6 separate regions of the Homo sapiens genome follow, and all the other regions are reported to be linked to region 2. The links are microRNA targets in miRTarBase. Many come from high-throughput screens and were not tested one by one. Region 2 holds a microRNA gene; each other region holds the end of a gene's coding sequence.

What was found. Region 2 holds the annotated microRNA hsa-miR-548as-5p (AAAAGUAAUUGCGGGUUUUGCC, at 3,140-3,161, opposite strand). A microRNA usually pairs through its seed, bases 2 to 8, with sites in the 3' UTR of a target mRNA and lowers its output. Matches are read on the target gene's strand: a 7mer-m8 pairs with bases 2 to 8, a 7mer-A1 pairs with bases 2 to 7 and ends in A, and an 8mer does both.
Region 1: the mRNA of PPP1R18 is a reported target of hsa-miR-548as-5p. Seed matches in the 3' UTR shown: 7mer-m8 at 3,424-3,430.
Region 3: the mRNA of SLC35D4 is a reported target of hsa-miR-548as-5p. Seed matches in the 3' UTR shown: 7mer-A1 at 2,377-2,383.
Region 4: the mRNA of YAP1 is a reported target of hsa-miR-548as-5p. Seed matches in the 3' UTR shown: 7mer-A1 at 4,406-4,412 and 7mer-m8 at 3,998-4,004.
Region 5: the mRNA of VLDLR is a reported target of hsa-miR-548as-5p. Seed matches in the 3' UTR shown: 7mer-m8 at 3,954-3,960 and 7mer-m8 at 2,654-2,660.
Region 6: miRTarBase lists MCC as a target of hsa-miR-548as-5p. The part of its 3' UTR that is shown has no 7-base or 8-base seed match.

The regions. Positions count from the first base shown.
Region 1 is chr6:30,673,192-30,678,393 of GRCh38, forward strand. It overlaps PPP1R18 (protein phosphatase 1 regulatory subunit 18), which reads right to left. Exons shown (of 3, transcript NM_133471.4): 3 at 3,198-4,097. The coding sequence ends at 4,078. Among named protein-coding and RNA genes, the nearest start is that of DHX16, 2.8 kb to the left of the region's middle. RefSeq lists an enhancer at 1-126 and a silencer at 1,768-1,907.
Region 2 is chr13:92,488,122-92,493,323 of GRCh38, reverse strand. MIR548AS (microRNA 548as) reads right to left here and starts at 3,161; the gene lies at 3,104-3,161. The region is part of intron 7 of GPC5 (glypican 5); the gene reads right to left. All of the region lies in intron 1 of GPC5-IT1 (GPC5 intronic transcript 1), which reads right to left.
Region 3 is chr18:23,293,413-23,298,614 of GRCh38, reverse strand. It overlaps SLC35D4 (solute carrier family 35 member D4), which reads left to right. Exons shown (of 15, transcript NM_032933.6): 15 at 548-2,602. The coding sequence ends at 608. Among named protein-coding and RNA genes, the nearest start is that of SLC35D4, 140 kb to the left of the region's middle.
Region 4 is chr11:102,229,277-102,234,478 of GRCh38, reverse strand. It overlaps YAP1 (Yes1 associated transcriptional regulator), which reads right to left. Exons shown (of 9, transcript NM_001130145.3): 9 at 1,055-4,777. The coding sequence ends at 4,539. Among named protein-coding and RNA genes, the nearest start is that of BIRC3, 86 kb to the left of the region's middle.
Region 5 is chr9:2,652,786-2,657,987 of GRCh38, reverse strand. VLDLR (very low density lipoprotein receptor) reads right to left here. Exons shown (of 19, transcript NM_003383.5): 18 at 5,039-5,202; 19 at 1-4,155. The coding sequence ends at 4,120. LOC105375957 (a long non-coding RNA gene) reads left to right here. Exons shown (of 3, transcript XR_929436.3): 3 at 4,978-5,202. Among named protein-coding and RNA genes, the nearest start is that of VLDLR-AS1, 33 kb to the right of the region's middle.
Region 6 is chr5:113,022,698-113,027,885 of GRCh38, forward strand. MCC (MCC regulator of Wnt signaling pathway) reads right to left here. Exons shown (of 19, transcript NM_001085377.2): 19 at 1-4,785. The coding sequence ends at 4,605. Among named protein-coding and RNA genes, the nearest start is that of DCP2, 48 kb to the left of the region's middle.

The sequences.
Region 1 (5,202 bases), not on the chromosome of region 2:
AAGTGAAATTAATTTAATGGATGCCTAATGTGTGCTCATTGCTTTCCGTCCCTGGGATATAGCAGAGGACAAATCAAAAGTTCCTTACCAAATTTACATTTTGCGGTGGGGGAGGGACAGGATACATAATAAAGAAAGTATGGAAATTTTATAGAGCCAAAAACTATACAAAGTAAGGGAGGAATGAAATTCTATTTCAGATTGGAAGATCGGGTCCATGCTCATAAAACATATTAGCATTGTTGGCCGGGCGCGGTGGCTCATGCCTGTAATCCCAGCACTTTGGGAGGCCAAGGCGGGCGGATTATCTGAGGTCAGGAGTTCGAGACCAGCCTGGCCAAGATGGCGAAACCCTGTCTCTACTAAAAATATAAAAATTAGCCTGGCGTGGTGGTGTGCGCCTGTAGTCCCAGCCACTCGGGAGGCTGAGGCAGGAGAATCATTTGAACATGGGAAGCAGAGTTTGCAGTGAGCCGAGATCCCACCACGGCACTCCAGCCTGAGCAACAGAGGAAGTCTCTGTCTCAAACAAACAAAAAAGTGACCGTTGCTAGGACTGGTTTGCCTGCAGCAGGAGTGAAGACAGGTCAGGTATAAGGGAAGACCTCTAGGCAGGAAGAAACTGGGGAACTGGGGAAAGTTGTTAAAGACAAAATCTCCAAACTAAGGAACAGGCAAACTGTGTTCTGCATTTTTGCTTAACAGCTTGAGAAAATCACTGGTGGCTGCTTATTTAAAAGTAAGCAAGGCCAGGTGCAGTGGCTCTTGCTGTAATCCCAGCACTTTGGGAGGCTGAGGCAGGAGGATATCTTGAGACCAGGGGTTTGAGACCAGCCTGGGCAACAGGGTGAGACCCCACCATCTCTACAAAAAATTAGCCAGGTGTGGAGGTGTGCACCTGTAGTCCCAGCTACTCTGGAGACTGAGACAGGAGAATTTTTTTTTTTTTTTTTGGAGACAGAGTCTCGCTCTGTTGCCCAGACTGGAGTGCAATGGCACGATCTCGGCTCACTGCAACTTCCGCCTCCCAGGTTCAAGTGATTCTCCTGCCTCAGCCTCCTGAGTAGCTGGAATTACAAGTGTGACAAGCACATGCCATCACGCCCAGCTAGTTTTTGTATTTTTAATACAGATGGGGTTTTACCATGTTGGTCAGGCTGGTCTCAAACTCCTGACCTCATGATCCGCCCGTCTCGGCCTCCCAAAGTGCTGGGATTACAGGCGTGAGCCACCGCACTGGGCCTGAGACAGGAGAATCTCTTGAGCCCAGGAGCCAGAGGTTGCAGTGAGCCGAGGTCAGGCACTCCAACCTAGGCAACAGACCAAGACTATGCTCAAAAAAAAAAAACAAACAAAACAAAAAGCTGAATTTGTTACTCGATGCTCTGCTGTCTGATTTGTTTGATCCTGCATCATACTTTTGTGATTAATTGCAGTTACCAGGCACTACTGTTAGGAAATGAAACATTGTTCTTATTAATAGCCACAAGTGGATCTACATCACTGACTTTTTTTTTTTTTTTTTTGGAAAGGGAGTCTCGGAGTCTCACTCTGTCGCCCAGGCTGGAATGCAGTGGCGTGATCTTGGCTCACTGCAGCCTCCACCTCCTGGGTTCAAGCAATTCTCCTGCCTCAGCCTCCTGAGTAGGCGGGACTACAGGTGCGTGCCACCACGTCCAGCTAATTTTTTGTATTTTAGTAGAGACGGGGTTTCATCATGTTGCCCAGGCTGGTCTCAAACTCCTCAGATGAGGCAGTCCACCCGCCTTGGCATCCCAAAGTGTTAGGATTACAGGCATGAGCCACCACACCTGGCCTGACCTCTTGAATGCATTGTTTTCTGTTTCTGAGATGGACTGTGAGCACCCCTGGCACCTCGGAGCTTCCTAACTCTGTTTTCCTGGGTCACAACTGGAAACTTTTTAAGACCTTTACCTAACAGGCTACTAATATAATCATTCTGTTTCCTTCCCTACCCAGACCTTCTCTGAACTGGCTGAGTCTTTTGACACCTGGCTTGTTCTCTTGCTAGTAAATTGAAAACCTTTGGCGTATGCTTAAGTTCAATTTGTCTCATATATTTTGTTTTATAGTAAAGGTGTGGGGCCTCCTCTGACCAGTCTGAGAGGAGCAACTTGTAGTGGTAGAAGGACTATAACTATTCAACCATATCTTTGTTAGCCTGGAGAGCTAACAACAAACAAACAAATTTTCCTGATGAGTAAAATATTGATGTTCCACATTTGTATAAGATATTCTTTGAAATGGGAAAATTCCAAATATCAACTACATGGGCACCAAAGCCATGCACTATCAAGATGGTTTTTAAACCTTTTTTTTTTTTTTTGAGATGGAGTCTCACTCTGCTGCCCAGGCTGGAGTGTAATGGCGCAATCTCAGCTCACTGCAAGCTCCACCTCCCGGGTTCATGCCATTCTCCTGCCTCAGCCTCCCGAGTAGCTGGGACTACAGGTGCCCACCACTATGCCCCGCTAATTTTTTGTATTTTTAGTAGAGACGGGGTTTCACCGTGTTAGCCAGGATGGTCTCAATCTCCTGACCTTATGATCCGCCTGCCTCGGCCTCCCAAAGTGCTGGGATCACAGGCGTGAGCCACCGTGCCCGGCCTTTAGGCCTTTAACGATATAAAATCCATTGTCTATCAGAGGGGAACCTTTTCCAGGAAACTGACTCTTGTACATACTTACTTCATTTTGCAGCAATTTCAGATTTAGTATTCGTAGCCCCAGCTCTTTAAGTAAGTATCCCTGGATTAGCCACATGGGTTGTGTCATACACTACCTAGCTGCCTTCATGGCAGCAGGCTTCTGAATACTAGAACCCTTCAACTCAAAGTGTCCTCTGTAATATTTTAACCCTTTTCTTCTATTCATTCATTTGTTGTCATTCATTCTAGAAATAATTCCGTGTCTACTAGTTGACAGGTACAGGATATTGCAGTGAATCCAGCTGATGTAGTCAGCCCTCATGGCACTTCCAGTCTAGTGGACACTTCAACTGCCCTTTCTCATGTCACCTGCTTGTCCTGCGTGAAACCCACGTGCAGCTTCCCAGACCCCTTTTGACATGTCAGTGCCGAGTTCCTGGTTCATCCCCCATCATTTTCCTCTCCCCCAGCCACCAGAGCCTCCCCTCACATACCCTTTTTTTTTCCCAAAGAAGGAGAAGCAGACGAGTTGAAGAGAACTCCATTTTATTATGGAAAGTTAAAAAACAAACAAAACAAAACAGGCAATTGATAAAGGCGGCACAATGGGGAAGGAGAGGTGAGGTGTCTCCTTAGCCACCCGACACCATCTCAATTCAGTTCAATTGTGAACCACTAGGAGAAACAGAATTAAATAACTATCAAGGGGTACAGAGTTAAGAGTTCCAGCCTTCCCTCTTGGGGAAAACTAAGGCAAAGTAATACTGAGAAAAAGTGGAGGAAGCCACACCTTCAGGTCACTCCAATGAGGAGACTGGAGGGGACAGAGGAGAGAATTCCACGCAGACACAGCAAGTAAGCGTGGCTTGTAAACCTGGGACTTTGGCAGGTGGGGCTGGGAGCTGATGGAATTTGTAAACCAGGCTGTGGTCAAGGGAGGAGGCAGGAGCTGTAAACAAAGGGGCAGTGACCTAGGAAATGAAGGAGATGTGCCTATAAATGGAGTGGGGTCTGGGCCTCCCAGAGAGACGAGTGCTTAAATCCCGAGAGTCCCCACGGGATGGTGGGGAGGAAGGCTGTGGGGAGAGTGTACCCTGCCATGGGGGGCAGGTGCTCCATCTCCACCCTCCAGGGAGTTCTGTGCCCCTTCTCAGGACTTGGCGCTCACTCTTGGATGACCTAGGATGCACCAGCACGTTTAACCCCACCCACACCAGGGACTTTGGATTAGGGTAGAAATTGGGCAATTGGCTCTGCCCCCAGAAACAGGGTGGGGAAAGCAAGTTACAAGATGTTGGTTGCCCTTCCCTGCCAGGCTCATTATCAGGGTCTGTCTGCCCTGAATCTTCCGGGCTCCAGGATCTTCAGTTATAAGAAGGAGGGAGGTATATCCCTATGTTGGAAGATGGTCACCGCCGGCAGGACTCATCTGTGGGAGAGGGGGCAATAATGTTAGAGAATGAGTGAGAGCCTCTGCCTTCTGCCCACCCTTCCCCCCCACACAAATTGAAGGGCAGTTGGCATGCAGGAAGTCCTATAATATCTTCCATATCTAAAGCATGTTACCACCAGTAACCACATCCATCACTCATTTAGCTCGGACTCTGTGCCAGGCATCCTTATAACTGTTTAATCTCACCATAACTCCAGGAGAGATTAAGTAATATGATATCCAGCTGTGGCTCTTGGTGCTTCACAAAAAATTACTTAATCTTGGCCTGGAGCACCTGTAATCCAAGCAATTTGGGAGGCTGAGGCAGGAGGATCACTTGAGGTCAGGAGTTCAAGACCAGCCTGACCAACATGGGGAAACCCTGTCTCTACTAAAAATATAAAAACTAGCCAGGTGTGATGGTACACATCTGTAATCCCAGCTACTAGAGAGGCTGAGGCACAAGAATCGCTTGAATTTGGGAGGCAGAGGTTGCAGTGAGCCAAGGTTGTGCCACTGCATTCCAGTCCAGGCGACAGAGGGAGACGCTGTCTCAAAATAAATAAATAAATAAATAAATAAAATTACTTAATATTTTCTACAAGTCTAGGAGGTAGTTTTTGGTTTCTGTTTTTTTGAGACAGAATTTCACTCTGTCACCCAGGCTGGAGTGTAGTGGCGTCATCTCGGCTCACTGCAACCTCTGCTTCCCGGGTTCAAGTGATTCTCCTGCCTCAGACTCCCGAGTAGCAGGGATTACAGGTGTCCACCTCCATGCCTAGCTAATTTTTGTATTTTTAGTAGAGATGGGTTTTCACTATGTTGGCCAGGCTGGTCTTGAACTTCTGACCTTGAGTGATCCACCTGCCTCGGCCTCCCAAAGTGCTGAGATTACAGGCGTGAGCCACCGTGCCTGGCCTGTTTGTTTCTTTTGAGACAGGTCTTCCTTTGTTGCCCAGGCTGGAGTGCAGTGGGTGGTGCAATATTGGTTCACTGCAGCCTCCAACTCCTGAGGTCAAACGATGCTCCCACCTCAGCCTTCCAAGTACCTGGAACCACAGCTGCGCACTGCCACACCTGGCTAATTTTTTTTTTTTTTTTT
Region 2 (5,202 bases):
TACAAGTGATATCTTCTAATTTCTCCGAATATGATTGTTCCTGTCAATGTATATAAATTAATGTACAATATTTAATGCTTGTCCCTCTTTAATGCTGAAAAGTTCTAATTTTAAATTAATGTGTACATGTCAATATATGAGATTCAAACATATCTCATGCAGATGAGAATTTTTAAAACATAATTTCTATAGAAACTCCATTAAAAAATAATGTCATGAACCTGTTGAGTCTGTGTTAAGAAGGAACAGCTGCACACTCAGGGCCCTGGAAGGGAGCCCTATCAGTGTGAATTCAGAAAGCAACCAACAGGCTTATTGTCATTTATTTGTGAGAGAACAGCCATTTGTTTGACATACTGAAGTCAGCCTCAGGGTGAGGCTGCTTTGTTCCACACCTATCAGATGGAAAAAAATTATTCCCCATCTTCCTGATAAGAAGTCAAGGAGAATTTTGAGACAGTCACTAGTGGATACAAATAACTGACTGGACAACAGTTGGAGATTACTAGGCATTGCATTTATAAAAAAGGCAAATTTATTTCTGAGATGCTAAAAATTGTTTCAAGATTCAACAAATTCATGAATATTCATTTTTATTCACCTGGCTTTCCTAAGGAAGAAGAACATTACCCTAGCATTGTGTTTATTTGATTGTTCTAGTTTTACTTTTTTGCTTATAATATCATCTCTTTGATTACATATTTACCAGGACATTTTTATGGTTTAGGGAATTACTTTCTTAAGAAAATTAATGTGTTACTTTTTTTGTTTTGTTTTATTTTTATTTATTTATTTCTTGATTCTGTATTTTCTCTTTTTTTATATATTTTTATTATACTTTAAGTTCTAGGGTACATGTGCACAATGTGCAGGTTTGTTTCATATGTATACATGTGCCATGTTAGTGTGCTGCACCCATTAACTCCTCATTTACATTAGGTATATCTCCTATTGCTATCCCTCCCCCCTCTCCCACCCCACAACAGGCACTGTGTGTGATGTTCCCCTTCCTGTGTCCAAGTGTTCTCATTGTTAAAAAAAAAGAAAAAAAGAAAATTAATGTGTTACTCTATTCAAAATGGTCTTAATTTTTTAAATTAAAAATCACAACATTGACATCATTAGAAATGTATATAATTTGTTAAAACATATACACACACAAAATGCTTTTCTTCTGCAAAATACTGAGTCTATACCTGCTTCTTCTATATGTATTGTTGCACAAGAATGATAAAATGAAAGGTTTTGAGGTCCAGATCACAGCATGCAAAAAACATCAAAGGGACAGAGTCTGCCTTTTGGGGACAGACTTAAATGATGTAGACTCTAGACTGAAAAGATAAAAAAAACTGTGAAGCTGAAGAAAGAATGATTCTGCAATTATGAAGGCTAAGGATATATTTCAACTGAATTCAGTTAACAAGAATCTCCTTTGAACCAACAGAGAAGAAAACTGAGGGCAAATAAAAAGAAATATTACTTGACATAGTATAATAATTTTATGAGGTTTGGTTTTCTAGTCAGAATTGACACAGTTTGAATTTGGAGTAGTCTGAAAAAAATCAACAGTTTGGGCATGTACTGCTTAATTTTTAGAGTAATATTCAGGTAGAAGACAGTACATTCGACAATATATTTCTTGTTGCTTGTCAGAGGCAAAATGCTGAAGTGGATAATCTACACGGTTGGCCAAGTGCACTAATTCTTATATTTTATTATGAATATAAGAATAAATGTGAAATCCCATTTATTCACAAAAATCTCCTGACCAAATGAATGTGAAGAACGTGCTGCCGATGTGTGTTGAGAAAATCTTTGCTTTACCATGAGAAAATATTGATCAAATATGTTTCTATAGCATCAAAACAAAAACTACCCATCTTAATATGTGTATAAAACATGAAAATGCCTATTAATTGCACATTTCTAAAATATAATAGTTTTACAAGTGTGTCAAAAAGTTGACTGAATTATATAAAGTAATTCTGGTTCTTCCTTTTCTTTATTAGTCCCTATTTTTGTGGACTTGAAGACTAAAAAAATCAGATCTTTTTTTCTGTATAGCTTGTAATTATGGAGAATGTTTCAAAACAAATTAAAATAGCACTTCACATATCAAGGACATCTCAGAATCATTTTCAAGTTTAAATTTTTAATTAACATGGATCTGATAGTAAACCATTAGCATAGGTTTAATTCTGAAATAATCAGCAATTGAGTACACATCTCCTGACAAGAAAACATAATAAATTTCTGATTTGTCACTAAGCAGAAACTTGGTTCCATATAGTAACGAGACCATCTGAGTCCTTCTCAGTTTCCATAGGTATCTGTCTTTGTTCTACCTCATTCTGTACCCCCTGCATGTGATGGAGTTGACAGTTATTCCTGTATAAATTTTACAAGGCTTCTTTCATGATAAGTACAAAGATTTCCACTGTAGTTTTCTTGCCTCCAATAATTAGCTTGGATTTATTGAACTACTATTTATACTAGTATAGGTTCAACCCAATATATCTTTTCAGTCAATTATTTTTAAGAAAATTTTTAGTTCATTATCTGTTACACGGTTAATTCCTTCCTATGTCCCTATGCTTTTCAAATATAAGATAATATTAGAATTAGTCATAAAAATGAAGAGGTGAAAAACACTTTAAAATTTACAAAACACTTTTATATCTTTTATATACGTTAGTCACTGTGACCCTAAACAGACCACTGGGACAAACACCATTTATATGTTTATTTTAGAACTCAGGATACTGAGGCTTACCAAAGTGTTTACTATTATACAACCATTAAGTGGTAGAGCCAGTCTTCCACCTCTAAAGGCTGGGTGGATACTTAATGTCCCTTTACAATGTATAGCAAGGATACTGATTAGAGAGCCATCATTTTTGATGAGGTTTTATACATTTTTCTACCTGTAAGTTAATCTCGTGTTCATTTATTTATTTGGAAAACATTAAGATTTTAAAATATGCACAACACTAAACATTAGGGACACTAAAAATTATTTCTGTTAGTGAAAAAATAGATATAATAATACAATGAAAAGTGGCAGAATCTAGACGATAATGAGATTGCTTAGGATCAGGCTGGTACAAACATAATTGTGGGTTTTACCATTAAAAGCAACGGCAAAACCCGCAATTACTTTTGCACTGACCTAATAATTCACAAAGAACCGAGAACAATTCAGCTTGGAGTTTTCGGGAAACAATGCGCTGAAAAGTTTAACTGCACATTATAGATAAATTTTTTAAAATGCACAAGAAGAGTATGTAAACAGACATTCTAAGAGGAAGAAGCACATGTTAAAAATAAAAACTTACATATAATGTTTAGGGACAAATATGTCATAATGAAGTTCCACAGAATCATTTAAAATCCTGCCAAGAAACTTGCCCTATATTTTATCCTTTTAGAAGCTGACTTTTTTTTTTTCTGTTTGCAATATGACCATATTTTTTGTTTTTTACATTCAACCAAGAGTTCCTTCCTGGCTTATGAATAGGTGAATCAAGCCTTAGTCCCAGCTCTGTCTGTACCTCCAACTACTGTAGATATTTTGTGTGTCTAGACAAACAAAAGAACGTGGTGATATTTCTTCATCCATACTGTAGGGAATGTGGAGAAAGTAAATTAATATTCTGAGTTCTTCTGAAAGTAGTAATGGCAAGCTTAATGGCAAACTCTAGGTGAGTTTCTGAGAGCAGCCCTGCCTCAGGTATCCACGTGGGTATCTCTCACTTCCTTCAGTTATCTACTCCAATACCACCTTTCGAGTAACCCTGTCCATATCCCTCAACTAAAATAACAACATCAGCACTCCATCTCATCTCACAATTTTTATGCAAATTACCTTGCCTAATTCTTCTCCACGTGTCTCATCAATATCTGACACATGATGTATTTACTGGTTTGTTTTCTGCCAGTATTCTGTTTCCCCGTTAGAATAGAAACTCCATGAGGACAGAGAATTGGTGAGTCACAAGATGTATCTCTAGCAACGAAGACATAGCCCTGCACATACTAATACTTGATAAATATGTATAGGATCATTAGATAAGTGAATGGACATAGGTAAAATGTACATGAAAATGAAGGATTTTTCTTAGTTTGGTGGTTAAATCATTATTCTGTGTCATTTCATCAGAGTTTAGCAGTAGACTAGCCACCTTGAATTTCACATTCTTTCTCTACTCCATGATGCAATGTATTGTCAAAGAGAGATGAAGAGCTTGATTAAATTATTATGTGCTGATTTGTGCATAATTGAGTCAAATAGAAAATAACTGATATATTAATATTTATATGAACATCTGGGAACTTGTATATAATTCTGTCTAAACTTGAAACCATTCCCCTGAAATTTACTTGTTAAAAAAGCCCTTTCTAATGTTTTATTTGTTAGTAACTGCCTTTATTGTCAAGCCTTTAAATGCTATTGCTATGTTAGCACATTGATACACATAGACATGAACAGTTTTCCGGAGGGCAGTTTCACAAGTAGAATTAATTTTAGTCAATTTCACTTTCAAAGCTTCAAACATTATCATGAATCAAGAGAAATGCAATGCCTGCAAGAAACCACCACCTACGACACAGTATCGCTGTGAATTCTGAGCATATGCACTCTAAATACCAGGTTTTATGTCATTGCATTTCCTGTCTGGCTTTGAATGAATTCTGCCTTACAGGACTATTAGCAAACAACAAAAATGATAGCACTTCACAAGCCAAGGAATAACTAACCTACTTAAATATGTCTTCCTTTTGGATAGATTAAAAATGCCAGCAGTTAAGCAGCTGATGTATCAGCACGTATGGCAACGGAGGGATTTTTGCAGGCATATGCACTTAATCAAATATTACTTTTCCCATCACTGCCTAGAATCTATGTAATTTAATTAACTTATGCTTCAGTGGCATTTTGGAAATGAAGTGGATCTGAAGTAAGCATTGGATAGGATCTACTTAGCATTCCATCACGGAAAAGTGATGCATAAATTTAAATCTTTCGATAATATTATGCTTTGATTTAAATTGGTTTGAAAGATTTTGGACTGTTTAGTAAGTTTGCAATCCTTAAATAATTAGTCACAGCCACGTTAGAAAAAAATGGGTTTTCATTGAGTTTTGATACTGGATTAAATTTACAAACTTATATGCCTGTACACACACACACGCGCACACACA
Region 3 (5,202 bases), not on the chromosome of region 2:
TCTCCCACTGCTTTTTCATTTCAGATCACTGGCCATGTTTCTTTCTGTGCTGGTGGGAAAATTATGATTCCCCACTTGTATTTTCACCTTTAAATGTTCTGTAGTTTAAATGAAATGAAAACTGAGATTGTCACCTTAATTTTAAGAGTGTGGATACCTGTGTGATTTCCTATCCATCAGCCCAATTTGCCAACAGCACCAGAGGCCTCTATGGGATCTCTCCTGCCAGAAGTCTGTGTTTCTGCCAGAGAGCACTAACCCAGTGCATCATCCTCACCTGGTCAGGATGTGTGGGACGCTTCACCTTCTTCCCCAAGGGAAGGTATCGAGCCCGCCTCCCTGCCTTCTCACCTCCCATGTGTACCTGAGGTCTGCCCTGAGGGATAGGAGCGATTCCTGGGCTTGACCTGGAAGCATGGCAGTTCGGGCTGGTGATGAGTCTCAGTTGCAGGATGAGGGGAAGCACCCCTTGCCCTGCGTATGTGGGCGCCAGGCAGCTCAGGGGTCCCGGGGGAGTGGAGAGCTGACCTTCTGCTGTTGTTTGCAGCCTCCTGCTCGGTGCGCTTGGAGAGGCCTTGCTGGTTTTCTCAGAGCGGAAGAGCTCCTGAACAAGACGGTCAAGAGAAAGACTCACAGGCTGCTGCGGGAGAACAGCTTGTACACCTGTGTACGAGCCCCTGGTCTCATAGCTCCCTGTTGGATGTGTCAGAAAGAGGAATGCAAGGACAGTGAGGCCAGGTGGGCAGTGCCATCACCCTCACCCAAGTGAATGTGGTGGTGGCTGATGAGGCCGAGGCCCTGGTGCTTCAAGGAGCACCCTTTCTGGGGGTCTGCAGGTCACTGCAGAGGAGCGGTCTGTTACATCTTCCCATTTGGAGAACCTCTCTCAACCGTGCTGTAGCTGGTTCTGCAGAAACAGGAAGTACAGGATTTCATGGGCTGGCTCTGCTCGCCTCGACTGAGCTTCACACCTCTGGATGCCACATGCTCTCTCCCAAACACTGCTTTCAGTGCAAGGTAGTGGGCCTAAGGGGTTTGGTTGTCTTTTTTTTTTTTCATTTTTAAAATTTTAAATTTTTATTTATTATTATTTTTTAGAGACAAGGCCTCACTCTATCGCCTAGGCTGAAGCACAGTGGTGCGATCACAGCTCGCTACAGCCTTGACCTCCTAGGATCAAGCCATCCTCCTGCCTCAGCATCCACAGTAGCTGATGTGCACCACCAGACCCGTCTCATTTTTTCTATTTTTATTATTTTAGAGATGGGGATCTCACTGTGTTGGCCAGGCTGGTCTCAAACTCCTGGGCTCAAGCAATCCTCCCACCTTGGCCTCAAAGTATTGAGATTACAGGCATGAGCCACTGCACCCGGCCTTTCTCATTTTTATTTTTAAATTGACAGACGTAACAGTGCGCATTTATCACGCACAACACAATGCTTTGGGAATGGTTAAATCTAGCTCACAAATGCATTACCTCACACGGTTGTCATTTTTGTGGTGAGGCTTGGTTGTATGTTTTGTTTCATTCATGTTTTTACATCCTTGGAGTCTCCTCTGGGTCCGTCCTTTCTTTGCTGTCATGCTGGCTTGCCTAAGGCCCACCGCCACCTGCGTACGAGCATTTTAAACTCTAGAGTGAGTGACAGCCTTTTTATGGTTGGTGTTACTATTTATTTCCTGCCTCTAAACTTCTCGTGGTCCTTATAAACTTGTCAGGATGTGTGTTGCGTTGAATTCTGCATGTCCTTTTTTTGCCCACCCTCAGGTTAAGCTGGTACTAACTTATCCCCAGAGGAAACAGGGTTTATGAGCACTGACAGATGTCTTCCCTGGGCAAAAAAAAAAAAAATAGTATATGTATACACACACACATACACATTTATATTTATATTTCTTAAAGCTTTTAATCCCTTTCATTCCCTGATATCTCAGAGATTTCAAATCATTGAACACTGAAGTATATTTTTCAGGCCAGATGAAAAATTGTATTAAAACCCTATTCCTGGTCAGGCGCAGTGGCTCACGCCTATAATCCCAGCACTTTGGGAGGCCGAAGTAAGCAGATCACCTGAGGTCGGGAGTTCAAGACAAACCTGGCCAACATGGTGAAACCCTGTCTCTACTAAAACTACAAAAAAATTAGCCTGATGTGGTGTTGTGTGCCTGTAGTCCCAGCTACTTAGGAGGCTGAGGTAGGAGAATTGCTTGAACCTGGGAGGCGGAGGTTGCAGTGAGCCAAAATTACGCCACTGCACTCCAGCCTGGGCAACAGAGCGAGACAGTCTCAAAAACAACAACAACAACAAAAACCCTATTCCTTGCCTTTGTAGGAGTCAAAATAAATGAACTTCTTTTTTCTTTTTTTTATTATTATACTTTAAGTTCTGGGGTACACGTGCAGAATGTGCAGGTTTGTTACATAGGTATGCACGTGCCATGGTGGTTTGCTGCACCCATCAACCTGTCACCTACATTAGGTATTTCCCCTAATGTTATCCCTCCCCTAGCCCTCCATCCCCTGACAGGCCCTGGTGTGTGATGTTCCCCTCCCTATGTCCATGTGTTCTCATTGCTCCAAAATAAATGAATTTACACAAAATGGTCACTTGTTTCTGAACCCACCAAGAAGGTTTAAGAAAATAATGACTAACTATAAATATTTCTGTTCCTAATAGATGTTTCAAATACCTTACCACTCTGCCAGGTATCAGAGAGTTTGGGCCATTCAGGGTGACCCATGAGTCCTCCGCAAGCAGGGAGCCAGGCCCTGTAGTGTTGAATATCCACGTCATTGATGGAGACCCCCTGCCCATGGCGTCCGGGAAATACGCCTTGTCCATACTCAGCCCCATGGAGAATATAGTCAACTCAGTCGGTGGCTGTTGTTGCCTCTGCATGTGTTCCCCAACTTGTTGAGAAAAGAGAGAAAAAGAAACAACTAGCAATGGATTCGTGTATTTGGAACTTGAGTACCTTAAATTCATGTCCTTGTCTTTTCCTGGTCTCTGCTTGTCATGTAAGGTAAAAATGCTAAGAGTGACCTTAACACATATGGCTTTCAACTTACTTTTGTTGTTGTTGTTTTGTCTTGTTTGTTTCCATGAAAAATATTTATATTATTTTTTTTCTAACCTCCAGCTGATTAAACAGGTACCTTACACTTATTAATTTGGAGGAAAAATAATAGTAGCTGCCTGACATACCTTCTCACTTTGAAGAGTCTCTACTTTTTTAATTTAAATTTTTTTTATTTTTAATTCTGGGGTACATGTGCGGGTTTGTTACGTAGGTAAATGTGTGCCGTGGTGGTTTGCTGCACCTATCCACCAGTCACCTAGATATTAAGCCCAGCATGCATTGGCTATTTTTCCTAATATTCTCCCTCCCTCCCCACCCCCCGACAGGCCCGGTGTATGTTGTTCCTCTCTCTGTGTCCGTGTTCAACTTACTTTTGTTCTTCATCTAGGATGTCAAACTTTCTAGAGACTGAGGGTCAAATAGAAAATCTGGGTTTAGAATTGTCCTTATTCTCTTGCTCCTGTAAAACTCTATACAATGGAGACCAGTTCTTTTCCACTTGCAGAAAGTGGCATCTGTCCAAGTGTCATTTTATACCTGTCTTTCCAAGTGCCATTTAAGCAAATGGAGGTTCTGATGACTGCAAAGAGCCATGCAGTTTAAACCCAGTCCTCTTTCCAGCAGAACTGGCCCCAAAAGCTTTGGCTGAGAAGTTTTAGATCCTTTTTCAAATAGTTCTCTAGCAAGCCTGTATTTGTTTTCGTTTGGTTGTTTGAAACACCTTTCAGAGTCCTCTTTGTTTTTTGGTTTGTTTGTTGTTTTGTTTCGTTTGCTTGAGATAGGGGTTCACTGTGTTACCCAGGCTCGAGTGCAGTGGTGCAGTCACAGCTCACTGCAGCTTCAACCTCCCAGGCTCAAGCAGTCCTCCCACCCCAGCCTCCCAAGTGCCTGGGACTACAGGCACGTACCACTCCACCCAGCTAATTTTTTATTCTTTGTAGAGATGGGGTCTCACTATGTTGCCCCCTGCCTGTTGTTCTTAAAATCTCAGATCTTTTCTTACATTGACACCAGCAAGAGGCAGAGGATAAGGTGTTTTGTCAGTATGCTATCAGTTTCCGTCAGTTTCTATTGGTTCTTGGGCCTTTTTATTCAAGCTTTAACCACCATCTTCTATGCCCAAATTCACGTGCTCAGCGCTGAATGAAGGATGAGCCCACAGACCTGAACAGTGGAGTGGCCCCCTCACTGTAGCCCCAAGCTCTCATTTTCTGCTTAGGGAGTCTCCAGGTAAGCCCACACTCTCCCTTTATTTACCCTTGGATCCTGTTTGGTACCTGATGACCTTAATCCTTGCTGGACCTCAGTCAGAGCCTTGGGATTTGGGTTTTTTTCTTTTATTTCTATAAAGAAAGAACGTGCTTTCTATTAGGAGAGGCAAGGTTGTGTACAATGGTGTATTATTACTAATATGCTGTGGATATAAAGAAAAATAAGGGCCAGTCACGGTGGCTCAAGCCTGTAATCCCAGCACTTTAGGAGGCTGAGGTGGGAGGATTGATTGAACCCAGGAGTTTGAGACCAGTCTGGGCAACACAGTGAACCTCCATCGCTACAAAAATAAAAAATAAAAATTAGCCAGGCATGGTGGCTCACGCCTGTAAGTCCCAGCTACTCAGGAGGCTGAGGCAGAAGGATTGCTTGAGCTCAGGGGTCAAGGTTGCAATGAGCCATGACTGTGCCACTGCACTCCAGCCTGGGCAACAGAGCCAAACTCTGTCTCTAAAAATAACAATAAAAGAAAAATAAATTGTTTATTTTCTTTCCTTTGCCCTTCTTTCTGTTCTCTTCAATACCGGCAGGGGAGTGTTACAGAAAATATTGGTGTTAACCCTGGGGAGGGAGTTCTTGTAGCTTTAACCCAGATCCAGACTCCTCTTTCTGCCCACATCCAGACCACTGAGCTTGAAATAGAGAAGGGCCCACCCAGTGCCTCTAGCCCTGTGCTGTCCAGTGTGGATGCCCCTGGCCATCTATGGCTTTGGAGCACTGGAGTGTGGTTGGGCCAAATTCAGATGGGCTGTAAGTGTAAGAACACACTGGTTTCAAAGACTTAATATTTTTTAAAAAGAATGTAAAATATCACATCATTTTTCTATTGATTACATGTTGAAATAATAT
Region 4 (5,202 bases), not on the chromosome of region 2:
GCTATTATACACGCAAACACAGAAATCAATCTTTTTTTTTTTTTTTTCTGAGATGGAGTCTCGCTCTGTCACGCAGGCTGGAGTGTAGTGGCGTGGTCTTGGCTTACCGCAGCCTCTGCCTTACGGGTTCAAGTGATCCTCCCACCTCAGCCTCTCAAGTAGCTGGGATTGCAAGCATGCACCACCATGCCCAGCTAATTTTTGTATTTTTAGTACAGATGGGGTTTCACCATGTTGACTAGGCTGCTGTCGAACTCCTGACCTCGGGTGATCTGTCCGCCTCAGCCTCCGCCCACAATGCTGAAATTACAGGCGTGAGCCACCACGTCCAGCCATCTTTAAAGATACTCAAATCTACTTCTTATTCAAAGGTCAGGACCTACCACTTCAATTTGTGAATGTTTTTATTTATAAGCCAGTAAGTAATGCTTTTTACTAATATATAATATTCTCTCATGACCTCCAAAATAGAACAGAATATATATATATTCTCAGCCTCCCGAGTAGCTGGGATTACAGGCATGCGACACCACGCCCAGCTAATTTTGTATTTTTAGTAGAGACGGGGTTTCTCCATGTTGGTCAGGCTGGTCTTGAACTCCCAACCTCAGGTAATCCGCCTGCCTTGGCTTCCCAAAGTGCTGGGATTACAGGCGTGAGCCACCACGCCTGGCCTGAGAGAATATATTAAAGAAGTAAAACCAAAGGCCATTCTGAAAGACAGTGCCATGTTCTTATGTTCTCAGTGTCCTCTGTGCCGTCACATGTAGTGAAGTCATTTAAGAATCAAGCAGACGCAGTTCTGCTTAGACACTACCACGGATGAGGATGGTGTATGTGAAGAGTAAGAACACAAAGTTAAAAGAATTATATATCCATACTTCAAAAGTTCCAAATGTCAAGCCTAACTTAAAGCACAACGAAACTTAAGTTTAACTTGTCTTCCCAGTTACTACTGTAATCACCTTTTATTGCCAGTTCTTGTTCTATTGGAAGACCAGTAAGAAGCCAAAAAAAAAAAAAGTTTCAAATATCAATTGTTAAAAACAACAAAGAAGAGTTTAAGGAAAGAATATATTTGAACCACATAAACAAACAAAAAGGTATTACATAAGAAAAAATAATGTAACAATTTATGTAAGTACCTAACATATGAGCATGCTCTTACATCTAAAACAAAAAATAAAAAGGTAACATTGGTACTATATATATATATTTGACAAGTGTGCATTAAAGAATTCTCTAATATAAAACATTTAAAATGTGGAGAATACTTTTTCAAGATACAGAAAACAATTGTTATGATAGGCACACCCACAATTCTTATAACAACATGCTTGCGAGGATAAAATCCACCTGAGCACTCATTTCTCAGATGTACCAACGCTAGAAAAGTGTTAAGCACTGAATATTGCCACCCACTTTTGCAATGTTTGAGTTTCAACACTGATTGGTATGAATTCTGAATTACACAATTAATTACTGTTATTTTTCAGTCTTTCTGCCATGTTCCATATAGAAGGCATGTATTTAATATGAATACTTAACACAGCAACATTATTTGTAGCAAAGTCACTTCCCTGTGTTCATTTTTCCTTTAAAGGCACTACATTTAGAAAAGTTATTACAACAAATAGTGCTTTGGAAGATCTGAAACTCCAAATCAATGTGCTCCATCAACCATAAGTAGATCTAAGAAGCCCTGACTGAAAATAACACAAATGTAAAAAGTTGATAAATTTAAAGATTATAAAATTGGTTTATTGTAAAAGCAATTCAAGAATACCCAGTTAAAATCTTATCCCAATGCTACCCAATACAACCAAGAAGCAGTTAAGCACTTTTACATTAGGAACAAGGACATAAAACAAGAGACCACATCAAGGCTATGATTCAAACTCAAAAAGGGAAAGGACTCTTAGGTCTCCTTCAGGTCAGTACAGAGGGCATCGTAAGATCAAAGCACTGTGCCAGGTATCACAGTACTGCTACAACACTGAGGTATAACTGGGCAAATTAAAGTTGAGGGGTAAAGGAAGATCTCCATATTCATATTGTTTTGTGGGTGTACTTAGGTGACTGAAACTCTAGAACAGCTGCCTTTAATGGCAGCACGGTGTAAGACAAGTCTTTATTAAAGAGAAAGAAGTTTATAAAGTTCTCTATCAAGGTCCCCCTAAATCTTCACAACCCCCCCCCCAAACTTTCCCACCCTCCCCCTAAGCTAAAGCTAATCTGCTGATATATAAGATATAATCTTAATCTGTGGCTACTGGCAAATTATAGGCACTCCTTCCAAGTAGCTTTGATCTTCTGCACATTAAAAAAAATCCCAACAACATGCTATGTAATTCATATACCCAATTTTGCATTCTAGGTAGAATTTCATTACTACTCTAAAACTCCATCTGCAGTGGCCATTTCCCCCCAGACTTAATTCAAGATTTAATCTTTCTGCTGTTTTCTTAATAAAAGCCTTAGAGTCAATTATTATGAGTGATCAACCTATGAACTATTATATACAACACAGTGATTGCATTTTTTTGAGCACTGAAAGTACTTAAAATAAAACTTCTTACTTCCAACTTTTGCCCTCCTCCAAATTGAAGGGCCAAAATACTTAGATTTTGTAATTGGGGGGAAAAAAATCTATCTTCCCAAGCTGAGGCTTTTCATAGCAGCTTTTGCCAGGAGAAGAGATTTTATGCCTGTTATGAACCCTTGAAAATAAGGGCTTATTCTAGAAACATTGAAAGACCCTTAAAACACAGAGGTGCTAGCTGGTGCCACTTTAATTCACAACCAACTATTACTTCATAGCTTATATTGAAGAGTTAATTCATGCTCGTTTTGTTCCTTTAAAAAATACTCTTTGGAAACCATTATTACTCCTGTAGACACATACTCTAGTTACATCATCTCTTCCTGTAAAAATAAAGGTATAATCATGATTATCTCTATTTCTTTGCTAAATTCAACTACCAATATACATTTATTAATCTGATCACTTTTCCAGCTAACTCAAAACCTTATAGTATTCTATCCAGGGTCAATTTTCAGCATAGAAGTAGGAGCAAGTCTTGTAAGTAAGAACAATCTTGAAGGCAATATTTTAATCTAGTCGTTAATGTGTTCATTACAAATGAGAACTACAAACTAGAATTTACTTCCAAAACTAAGGCAAAGAAAACTTCCAAAGCTAAATGAAGGTAAACCACTATAAAGCTTATTTCTGTCATGCACATTATGAACCTACTCACTGAATTCCAATCGAGACTTAAAAATTAGTCCAAGGGAGAAAATAAAGCCATTTCTGGTTTGCTCCTTTCCAATTCATCAGATAATATCTACCGTATGCCCAGAGGGCGTGGAGCACTCCCCTAGGCACTATCCACAGTAATAGCTCTTTCTAGAACACTAAACTACTTCAAACATCTGCAGACTGCCCCAACCAGATTTAAACTACCAGTGAAATATAAACTACTAGTCATGTATTCTAAATGCATACAAAGCGCTACCATTTTAAAAATTAACTGGAAAGCAGGGAAACCTAAAAAAGGATACATTCCACTACCACACTATTATAAATGTTATGTTTGGGTGTGTGTATGTATATAAAAGAGAGAGCAGATAATCGAGATTTAAATAAGGTGGTAAAAAAAACCAGGAAATGAAGATTTTACCAAAACAACTACAATAACCATCCCAAGCTACAACTATTAACAGATTCACTAATATGGTCATTTGCCTAGGTTCCGACAAAACCAACCAACCAACCAACCCCCCCACCGACCCTGCCAAAAACAAAAAAAACAAAAAACCCAACAAAACAGAACAAAATGCACACCCACAAAATTATCCACCAAAATCTATATTAGAGTATGTGGCAATAATTAATATATTTATATGGAAATTGTCTCATGCCTTATAAGCTCCTAAAATAAAATCAAGGTCATTATGTGACTAATGATAGCACTAGGAGGAAAAGAAAATACTGAAAGTAAAACAGTCTTCAGCCTTGGTTTCAGCTATCTCTTCAAATCAGCATTAAGTATTTAATATCAGATATAACATTTTTGGCTTGTCAGACCAGTAAATCATGTTTTTCCACTGGACAAAGGAAGCTGAAGAAACAACTGTTGAACAAACTAAATGCTGTGACATGAAGCATCTGACTTCTAAGTCTGAGTATTTAGTTAAAATGATTGGTGAACATTTAACTGGGCAAAAGGAATGGCATCCATCATCCAAACAGGCTCACTTCCCCCAGCCCCCAAAATGAACAGTAGTTTTAATAGCAAAAGAAATAAAAAGTTTTTTTCTTTTGATTCTTTAGAGCCAACTGTGAAAGAGGTCAGCAATACATTAACAGCAGCAATGGACAAGGAAGAGCAAAATAGAGGATTAAAGTATCTTGCTGGACGTTTGTTCATCTTTTTCTGTATTAGCCTGAAAACTGCAACTGGCTTATGGAAATTTCCGGTGCATGTGTCTCCTTAGATCCTTCACAGATTTAGAATTCAGTCTGCCTGAGGGCTCTATAACCATGTAAGAAAGCTTTCTTTATCTAGCTTGGTGGCAGCCAAAACAGACTCCATGTCATTAAGGATGTCAGAACTCAAAGCTTCCTGCAGACTTGGCATCAGCTCCTCTCCTTCTATGTTCATTCCATCTCCTTCCAGTGTTCCAAGGTCCACATTTGTCCCAGGAATGGCTTCAAGGTAGTCTGGGAAACGGTTCTGCTGTGAGGGCAGGGTGCTTTGGTTGATAGTATCACCTAGTGGAAACACACAGAGATAACAAAGTCCTTTTTGAAAAGCTAACATCAGGGCTGTATCATATGAGCACAGAGAAATGCACAGGGAAAGAAAAGCGCTCCTGACTGACCTAAACTGATACCTAGAATTTATATCAGGTCAAACAACTCACAGATAACAAAATAACAATGCCAAGTTTACTTTTGCTTCAACATTGTTCAGATATCCAATAACAGCTTGATTGCTATTATGTGCTGAGCACTAAAGGAGTCATGAAAAAAATAAAAAAGCCCTTGAAAAATTATATGCAGCAGCGGGAGAAAGAACAAGTACACAACACGACAGCATCACTACCCTGTCTTCCAGATAAGCACCACCATAATAAGACTAAACATAAACATGAGTGGTATAGACCTACCTTGGCCTTAAATATACTTTGGGAAAC
Region 5 (5,202 bases), not on the chromosome of region 2:
CTGAACTCTCATAGTTTAGGCCCATGATATGGCTGAAGCATGGATGTACAATTTTTAGTTTTCCCAAGAAAAATCATACTTGTTAGGATATTTACTCGAGTAGTTTTTTAGTATTACAATTCTAGAAGAGAAGTCATTATAAGCCCCTTCTGGCCTTAGAGACTATATAATACCAAAAATACCTAAAAACCTTTTCTTTAAGAGAGTGAAATCGCTTGATGTGCCCTCCCACTCCGGTTAGATGCTTAACAGACGACAGCAGACAATGCACCTCAACCAGGGCTAAGTGTGCACACTTGGCCAGCAGCCGCCAACAGAACGGGCAGCAGCAGCAGTTAGCACTGACGCAACTATCGCTGCTATTGCCACTACCATCTCCCCACTAACAGGGCTTGCAGAATATGTAATACCCAGGGGATTATATATATGTGGTTTTTAGGCACCGCCTCATCACCCACAATAAGGGAAGCTTCTTTCTACTCTTTAGCTAGTTGCTGCTCCTACTTGTTAGGAGTTTGATGTATCAGACCCTTTTGAGAAATGTCTATGTCACAACTACGTTCAGGATAAAACAATTATGAAACTGAAGGGCTCAGATTTGGGGATCAAGATTAGCAGGTTGTATTCATAGTACTTCAACTTAAATTAGCAAAAGTATATCTGCTTTTTGCAAGTTTTTGCCACCATTGAAAGCAAACAGTATAGCTTTCATTTGGATTCAAAATAATAAATTGTTTTACTTGGGTAAGATTTCACTAGTAAGAATTCTAGGAAATTATTCCAGTTAGATTACGTAATAGAGATAAGTGACCCCTAGAATCTTTAGGTTTGGGGTAAAGATTGTTAAAAGGTAGACTTTAAGTTGGTCTACCATTTCTACAGTGTTCTTAACTGAAGAGTTAGTCTTTTAATACCCTGTAGTTTGCTATTTAAAGCTTGGCTTCTCATTTTTGAGAAGGGCTACTTGACTTCCACAGATACAAGGAACAGAAGCAAATGCCAAAGTGAAAGCCTCAATTTTTTTTTTTTTTTTTTTTTTTTTTTTGCCTTGTATTCATCAAGAACTAAAGAGGCAGCGATACCTAGGCTTTAAAACACCTACTAGAATGTTTTAAGGGAGCTAGTTGAACAACTGGGACTATTTTTTTGCCAAATAGATTAGCTTGCAAAGGGCACTTAAAAATTTGGACAGAGGAACTTGGCTGGATTTCTTTACCAGAGGCCACAAATCTGTTTATTCATCTATCATCAATCTTTGTGGCAATTCCTAAAATTTCTGGAGGGTCCACTTTCACTTTGTGTGACAGGCTCATCTAACTCCAAATATTCTCCTTTAGTGTATGATAAGCTTCATATTTTACCTCTTAATTATCTTCTACATTGAACTCTAGAGACAGAGCAAACTTATCCTAACACATTTCACATAGAATTCAAGTTATTTTTTGGGTGATAAAGCCGAGGCCTGTTATCATTCATGCACTATTATTGCAAGCTGTATTGACTAGTAGTTTAGTCATATAACTATTTTTTTCTTTTATTTTTATAAATTTTTTTTTTGTAGAGACAGGGTCTCACCATGTTGCTCAGGCTGGTCTCGAACTCCTGGCCTCAAGTGATCCTCCTGCCTTGGCCTTCCAAAGTGCTGGGATTATAGGCGTGAGCCACCATGCCTGGCCCACCAATATATCTATTCTTATTTCAATAGGAATATCTAGTTACTTTGTTTCTACAAATGAGTTTGTACCTCGTAGGTACAATGAGTTGTACCTTGGCTTCTTACTGGGGAGGACGTGGTAAAAAAAAATGAGACGTTTTAGACTCTTTGAGGGTTGGAAATTTTACCCAGAACATGAAAGAACATACTAGGGACAGGAATTCAAAAGATGATGATAGAGAATAATACTTTATTTGCCAAAACAAACTTTGGGCCTTATAATTAATTAATACTGTATAATCCTTATAATGGGGAAAGCAATAGTATCAAACTTCAAGCTTCTAAAGGGAATTTGGTATTACTCCAGTTAAAAAAAAAAAAATCCATGTTTTTTGTACCACAGCAGGGTCAGAGCAGCAGCCAAACTCTGAAATGGCTTTCAGAGTTCATGATGAATGCTAACCTACTTACCAAACAGGCACTTCAGCTACTCACTGTCAGCAGGCCACATCCTGTTCAGTGTGATGACTAAATGTAGAGTGAGGAAAAGGTGGAGAGCAGACAGTTCTATATTCATGACTACAGCCTTTTCCTTCTACATGCTTGACCTCCAAACCTCCCATGAAAAAAAAGTCCAAGGCTATCTTTTCTTTTTCATTCAGTTGACCAAAATCACAAGGGGGCATCCCTTAAGACAACAGAACCAACTTCCCCTTCATCTAGTAGGATTAATGTCCTTGCTTAAGCCACAAACAAGATGTTAACTGCCTTATATTTCATATGCAAGTGAAATATGAGTCATCCACTGATTCACGTAGCAACGCAAAACATCTTCTCTTCATCCTCTTGGTACTGTGTTGGTCGGTCATTTAATTCCAGAGGAATTGCTGTACCTTCCACAGCCAACTCTCCACCTCACTTGTGACACACAGCATGCACCCGGTGCTTCAAGTCTTTTGTCTTTCCTTGCTTCCAGACATCCTGAGACTTTAGAGAAAGAAAGTAATGGCCAACCTGATGGAAAATTCACTAAACTCCCTGTACAATTTTTTCTTTGTCTCAAACTCCTCATCTGCTCTTCATACTGTAAGTTCCAGAAATTGTCCATAGTAAGAATCTGCCCCATCCCAGCCAGGATAAAAATTTAGGTGATATTGCAATTATATTCTTCATGAAGTCACAGTAAAACGGTGGTTTTTAAGCTTTAGTTTACATCAGTATCGCCTGAAGGGCTTATGAAAGCAGGTTTCAGCCCTCGCCCCCAGAGTTTCTGATTCAGTAGGTCTGGGATGGGGCTGGGAACTTGCATTTCTAATACATTCCCAGGTGATGCAGATGCTTCTGTTCTCAGGACCACACTGAGAAACCTGCCTTAGACTGTTCAAGAATGCCATTGCTTGCTATCCTCCCTGGCCATCTTCACAGTAAGACAGTCTAGACTTTCATAAGAAGAAAGCCCTTATCCATGCCTTAGAAGGCACTTGTCCTTGACCTATATAAATGACAGAACATGGAAAACAGAGACTTAACTATAAAGAAGCAGAATTCATAGAAATCTTAGCACGTGTTTCTCGATCAGGAAACAAGTTAATGGAAAAAAAAGAAACTCACTCCTCTAACCAAGAGGAATTCTAGGTACAGACTAAGCTAGCTTCTTTTACACAGTAAGAAATATTTCGGGAGCAAATGTTAAACAGTACTTCATTTTTTAACTGTGCTAGGGTGTAAGAGAAACCAGCCCAATTACAGGCTTAGTTATACAACATCAAGAACTACAGCTCACACATTTAGTTAGAACACTTGGTACTACTCAGGATAGGAGTTCATCCTAGAGGAACAGGCACAAACCATGGTTAAGCTGCTTGGTTTAATTTTTTAGCACTTGAAAAAAAATGTACAGTAGTTTGAACACTCAGTCTTTGCAAACCTCCATTGAGGTCAAAGATATCATTCATACGTACAAAATTAGTTTATAAATTTTTTTGGCAATTTCATCTTAGTAACCCGTTTTGTCCTATTGCCATTGTCCCAACCATTGAAAAAGTTTACAATAATTTACATAGAAATATTTTCAAAGTGCTTAAGAATAGTGATTGTTCTCTGGGATATTTACAGATGGCCTATACAATGTATGTACAGGTGGTATACACTATAGCACAAGTTTCACTGCTGGAATATGGCTTTCTAGGGAAAGTGCATATTTGGCCAGAGGTGGCAATACTGTCTAGAAATTCAAGGGTTACAGATACTCGGTAACCACATCCAAAGCTGAAGTAGAATGTGGACAAGAATATTTACAAAAGTAATATAAAAACGGTCAAGTACACAAGCTTGATCCACGCAAAGGTATCTTGATGTTCTTCCAGCCGAGAGGAAGAAAAAGAGACTTCAGCTGCTGGCTCGGTTACCATTCCGACGGGGGTATTATTTGTTTAGACCTCAAAGGTCAACATTTGTCACAGAAGTCAAGCTAGATCATCATCTGTGCTTACAACTGATATCTGTGGAAAAGAAGAAGTATAGAATGAGCTTGGTGATCACTCACTGATGGCAACTCTAGTCTTTAAAATGGACCTTGCTTTTGAGTTGGTCATTCAAACACTCAGAGTGCTTAGAAGAAAAGTCAGTCAGATACAAAAGAATACTGAGTTGTATCATTCATGCATTTAACTTGAATTCAACTATACCTGCTTGGTAGTGAGATAAGATAGTGTGACTAATTCTGTCTTTTCTACTTAATGATCATAAGTCTTGGGGAAAAATGTGAAAAGCCATGTGTGTGTCAAGAATTGACCACTGTTCCATGTTTCACCGGAGTTTGAGAGGGGAGTGATCAATACTTGTTTTGTTCAGCCTGTTTCCTACGTGAAGGCCAAATACTCCACTTGGGTTTCATCTGAAGAACAAGTGAGTGACTATTGCTGGAAGAAAAGCTAGCTATACTAAGGGCGGTGGGATACCTTTTTAAAGCAAAGCATATAATAATTTTGGCTAAGTGAATCTTACTCAATACACTGACTTTAAGCCAACTCCCCTATATATGATATGCTAATTTACTTTCAAATATCCAGTAGGCAATGGATTTAATAGTTCAGTAATGAGCTACTTGGTTCATGCTAGTATTTACATGTCATTTCTATAACCAAAAATATCTTAATATAGTGGTGACTTTAAGTTGACCCACTTGTCAGTTGGTGAGGGTTAGATGCTGATCAACTGAGTGACTTATGTTCTAACAGGCTATACTGTCTGTCTAATAGCCAGGTAGCAGATGAAGTGTTTGGTAACTCCATCATCCTAATGGCTCTCTCTCTCTCACCCAGGTCTCCTTTCTGAAAAGTCTCACTTCAAGCCATGGTGTATAAAGACACAAAGCTGACTTACTGCTGGGTACGTGTGTCCAACAGAAGCACTGTGTCTACCAATGTCTATGGAGAGGTCCTCTTCAGTGGTTTTCAAGTACACAGGATTGTCAAAGTTCATGCTTTTCATGTTCTTGTGTTGCCAATTCCGCCACATCAAGTAGCCACCTACTGCTGCCATCACTA
Region 6 (5,188 bases), not on the chromosome of region 2:
CCAGAATTACTAAGTACGGCATCAGTGTGAATGTGGGGGAAATTTGTGTATAACTTGCTTTGTTCTGCTGAGCTGATATTTCACCTGATTAGCAGATGGATGACTGTGGAAAGATGAAGTACTAGTCAAGGATGTGGTTTTACATAGCAGTTGCTATTTCCGGGACTGAATGATTTCTTCCTCTTGGTCACATGCAAAATCTCACCCAGATGTAATGTGATAAACAAACAGTTTACCCAGTGTAACCTTTAAGCAAAAATGTATGGTGATCTGCATGTGAAACTGTCTTTCTCTACACAGGTATTAGCAAAACAAGAATACATGAACAGCTGCTATCAACTTGTATACTTTTTTTCCACTTGTTTATATTTTAACAGCCACTGAGAGATCAGTGATGCTGTGGTGACAGCAGTCAGCATTATTTCTTAGAGAATACAAATGTATTAAGTTAGAGTAATTTCAGGTGTGTTAAACAGGAGATGCTTCTGAAGGCCACAAGTTTGGAGCTTACTTTAACCTGACCTACATGAACATAAGATTTGTAGGATGTGGATAAACTTTAAGAACTGGATAGTGAAGGCGTAACTTTTGTTTTGTAACCAGTTACGCCTCTTCTGTAAACTCTATAAGAGTGCTCAAAGGTGAATCAAACTTGTATATCATTCCTTGTCAAATAGGCTGTTCCCACTGGATAAGAAAATTTGCTGTATGTTTTCCTGAAAAATTTTATAGTGTTCTACAAAGCCATCACCTTCTGCAGAAAAAAAATGTTACTTATGCTCCACCTCCCCAGCCCTCACTAAAAACTTTGGTAGCCCTATGGCGGTACCCTAATTAAGGTCAGTGCAGAAATCTCAACCATTACAGAAGTCTCTTACTATTTTGGCTCTCAAAATACTCTAACTAGTAGCTCTGTTTGCTGAATCTAGAAGTAGGTAGAGCTGTAAATAGTTTAATAGAATGATTGGGACATACTCCCAATTAAGAATTTGCAAATTGTTTAAAGCCTTATGGAGGAAAGGACACTTTCAGAGATGTTTATTTTTTAATAGTCATCTTGATATGTTATCACTTTAAAGCTTGATAATCGAAACTCTTGAGAGCTATTAAGGTTGACTGATAGACTTAAAAAGTGATTGCTTTATAATTCTCGTGGGCCATAGGAAACACCTTCAGAAGGGAACAAGCAACTATGGAGGTTCTTTAATTCATGCCAGGGACACAGGCAGTCCAATCTTGATCGGGTAACTACGGTGCACTTTTTTCTCATTTAAAATAATCTAATCTGTATCCAGTTAGGAACCAGAAGACTTTCAGATAGTTTCATGTTTTCCTTAGAGTGGTAACTTTCTTTACTACTCCTTAACAGCTTTTAAGAAAAAGCCTATGGGCTCTAATTTGGACTTCCTTTTGGAGTAGAATGTCAAGGCTCTGACTTAGAAGAGGTCCCTCTAAAATATTGCTGCAGGCTCAGAGAAGACTTAGTGCATGCATCTGAAAGGAGAATTAAGCAATTTTAAAAGTTAAGTGCTAGTTAAACATAACATTTGTTTCAGGCAGCATGGATATTAACTTCAGAACGCTGACAAGCCAGCCGATGAGGATGAAAGTTTCAATAAGGAATCATACTGTTCCCCAGTCCATGACAGATTTTTGTAGCTGGTAAGCTCACACTGATGGCACTCGCAACTACGGACAGAAGTCTCTTTTGCTTGTGATTTGCACAGTTGGTTTTGTTTGCCTCAGTCCAACAATGGGAAATATATTCCAAGGGAACTGTGAAATGGGTCCTTTGGCTCTGTGCCCATTTCTTCAAAAGCCAAAGACTGAATTCTGAACAGAGATGGTTACTGACTAAAAGGGGGTAACCACTGAGGAAACTAGGGAGAACAATTCAAAATACGAAATCTGAAGGTTTTTAACCTCATATAAATTAGAATCAAGATCATTGTTTACCCTCATTGGAGATGTTTGTTAGAGAAAAATTCAGGTAGCGCCAGGTTATTCACAAAGGAAAATTACCCAGGAACCTGCAAGCATTTAATTTAATCAGTATAGTTTAGTTCAGTAGCTCCCACAATTAGCATAATCAAGTGCCACCTAGTTCACCTTCAAGGATTGTGTCTTGGGGAGTATTTGAAAAATACAAGAAAAGGAAAAACTTTTATAGCTTTTTTATTATACATATTTATAAAAAATTAACACTTTTGCCTGCAAAATAGTTTTTACCCAAATCACATTTGAAAGTACTAAAACTAAGGTCAGGTAGCATGAGTAAAACTGGGGCCCTTAACAGGAGCTGGAGCCGCCTCTGCCTGGGGGAATTCTCAGAGAAGGGGAGGTTCTCTGATTTTACCTGGAGCAAGAATGGAGACAGAAGTCAGTAGGCAGGATTTTATTCCTGCTTCAGCCACATGTTTCTGTGTCAGTGAAAATGAAAACTGCCCATTTGATGCCTGCTTAATCACAAAAAAGAGCCATGCACATCCCACTTTGCTCAGGGGAGGACGTTTCCCTAGGCAAGCTGGAAAAATAGTGAAAACTGATTTTTTTTTTTTTGGGGCATATGTTTTTCAGCCAAAACATTTTCCTCATGATAAAATGCAACTTTATATGAAAAGTGAAAAATTCTAAAAAATCACAGGAATGGCCAGGCACATTGGCTCATGCCTGTAATCCCAGCACTTTGGGAGGCCGAGGTGGGTGGATCAGTGGTCAGGAGTTCGAGACCAGCCTGGCCAACATGGTGAAACCCTGTCTCTACTAAAAATACAAAAAAACTAGCTGGGTATGGTGGCGGGCACCTGTAATTCCAGCTACTCAGGAGGCAGAGGTTGCAGTGAGCCAAGATCACGCCACTGCACTTCAGCCTGGTGACGAGCAAAACTCCATCTCAAAAAAAAAAAAAAAAAATCACAGGAACTAACTTTGACCAAATGATTGACAGAAACCAGTGAACATTTTCATAGTGATCAAAGCACCCCAAAGCTGGTCCTTCTAGACTGATACCAGTTGATCTGTTGTTTCGTTTTGGAGATGGGCAGCCTCACTGCTGGCCTCTCAGTGGTTGCTTTTAGGATACAGCTGTCTGCCCTCCGAACTGGTGGCTGGAGTATCCTCCAGCGAACAGAAGGCTGTGGAATTTGTATCATGCTCTGAAAATAGACCTACCCGTAGCTTATGGACATAAAGACTCTATGCAGAAACCTCCTCAACTTTAATTTGTAGTCAGCTATGGCAATGGAACACATTTTTCATAGGGAACTTTGGATGGATTCTCTGGTGCTACAGAAAAAAACAGTAAATGGTCCTTCAAGTGTATCAGTGTAGAACTGAGAGAGAAGAGGTAAAACTGAAAAAGAATAATGAATTTGTTTTAAGATTGAAGACCTTCCTGAAATAATTCAGTTACTTTGGTACTGCCTAGCCCTGTAAGCATTTTGCTTGAAATTTAACCTTTTAAGCACCATATGCTAACCATCACCATGTATCTGGGGGCAAAAAAGAAGCCTTAACTACCATTCCCTCACTCTGTCCCCGTCATGACAACAGGAGCTAAGTCTTGAACTGGGGGTTACACAGCACTCTTAAGTAGGCGTGATAAGTTTTGCAAAATGTTCAGTATCTCCTCAGTGTCTTGTCCTTAGGTAGAGACAGGTCCAGAGCTACAAATGCACCCATGTGGAAGAGATTTGATTCAGCAGAACAGCAATTATGTAGTGCCCTGGGGCGGGAAGTGCTAATAATGTTTCTCAGCTCTTGAAGAAACCCCTGACAGAATTTTAGTTCCACTACAGGTATCAAAAAGATTCCCAGCTCTAAGTCTTGGATATTAATAAGGCTCCACTGAGAGGGAGAAATCCCAGAATCAAGAGAGCGCTCCCTTCCCAGCCCTGCCTCCAAAATGAAGATTGAAGGAAGTTTTTATTCTCTCAATACAAAATTGTTCAGGCACAGTCCTGGTGGTGGTCTGTTTGTAACTTTAGTGTATCTGGGACTGTAAGTAACACCTGTCTACGCTCTTCCCATGACCTATAACTCCCAGAGATCACCTCTTATGGCCGCCTCTATCTTAAAGTTGAGACCCGGGACTTGGAAACCAAAGCCTTGCTGTAGTAAACAAATCAGCAGTCCTTTTAAATGCTGGAGGCACACACAGGTCTGTTTTCCCATGAAGCAGGAGGAAAGAGGAGAAACGAGATTCTAGAAGATGAGCCCAGCATCTACCAAAAAGAGGATACAATGGAAAATCTTACAGAAACAAATGTCTGGGATCCCACTGATGCACAGCCGCCAGACCAGAAGAGGAGGGGGAGAGTGAGTGCTGAAAGCAGAAACGAGGCTCTGCTGAGCAGGCACAGAACATGTGTTTACACGCTGTTGTGGGCCCAGGAGGGAAGAGCGGGCACCTCTGGATACAGTCCACAATGTCACCATGGCCAGTCGCCCCAAGGGTTGAGTTGGGGCACTCCATTGTCCAAGTGCCGACCTACCTGCCAGCCTTCCCTTTCCTCCTCCTCCCAACAAGTACATGGGCCCTTCTGTCCCCAGTGGCCTGCTGCAGTTTACTTCCCATGGGCAGAACTCCGGTGCGTGAGTGCTGATTAAAGCGAAGTTTCATTGGTGTGTGGCCTGGAGTTCTCCTCCTCTAGCAGAGCTATTCTTTGCTTGAGCATCCTCACTTGGGTCTCATGTCTCTCCACCATGGCCATCATCTGCGACTCTAACTTCTTCAGTTTGTTTTGATGCTTTTTCTTTGCTTTCTCATAGGCAGCCACCAGGTTGCTAGGTGGGAATGAAGGGAAATTGGTATTAAGATTCATCCTAAGTAGCATCGTGACACCATCCTGTCCACTGGATAACCAGATCTAGTGAGCACTGCTCTGAAGAAAGATCACTCATCCTCTTCGGTAAGAATCTGAAATCTAGTGGTCAGAGGAGGGACAGCACCAGGATGTCAACACTCAACGGCCAGTCACCTACTGGCTTAACCCTGATGAATCCAGCCGGATTGCTAGAGGCTGGTCACTCTCACATATTAGAAGGGGTTCTAAGAGTCAAACCAGCAATCCAAATTGGCCCAGTCCAAAACGGATAAATACAAATAGTGGGTCTATTTGTTGCTCCATGGTTGCTTGCAACATAGTCAAGTGTATCTTACAGGAGAGTACTCCTAAGGCACTGCAAT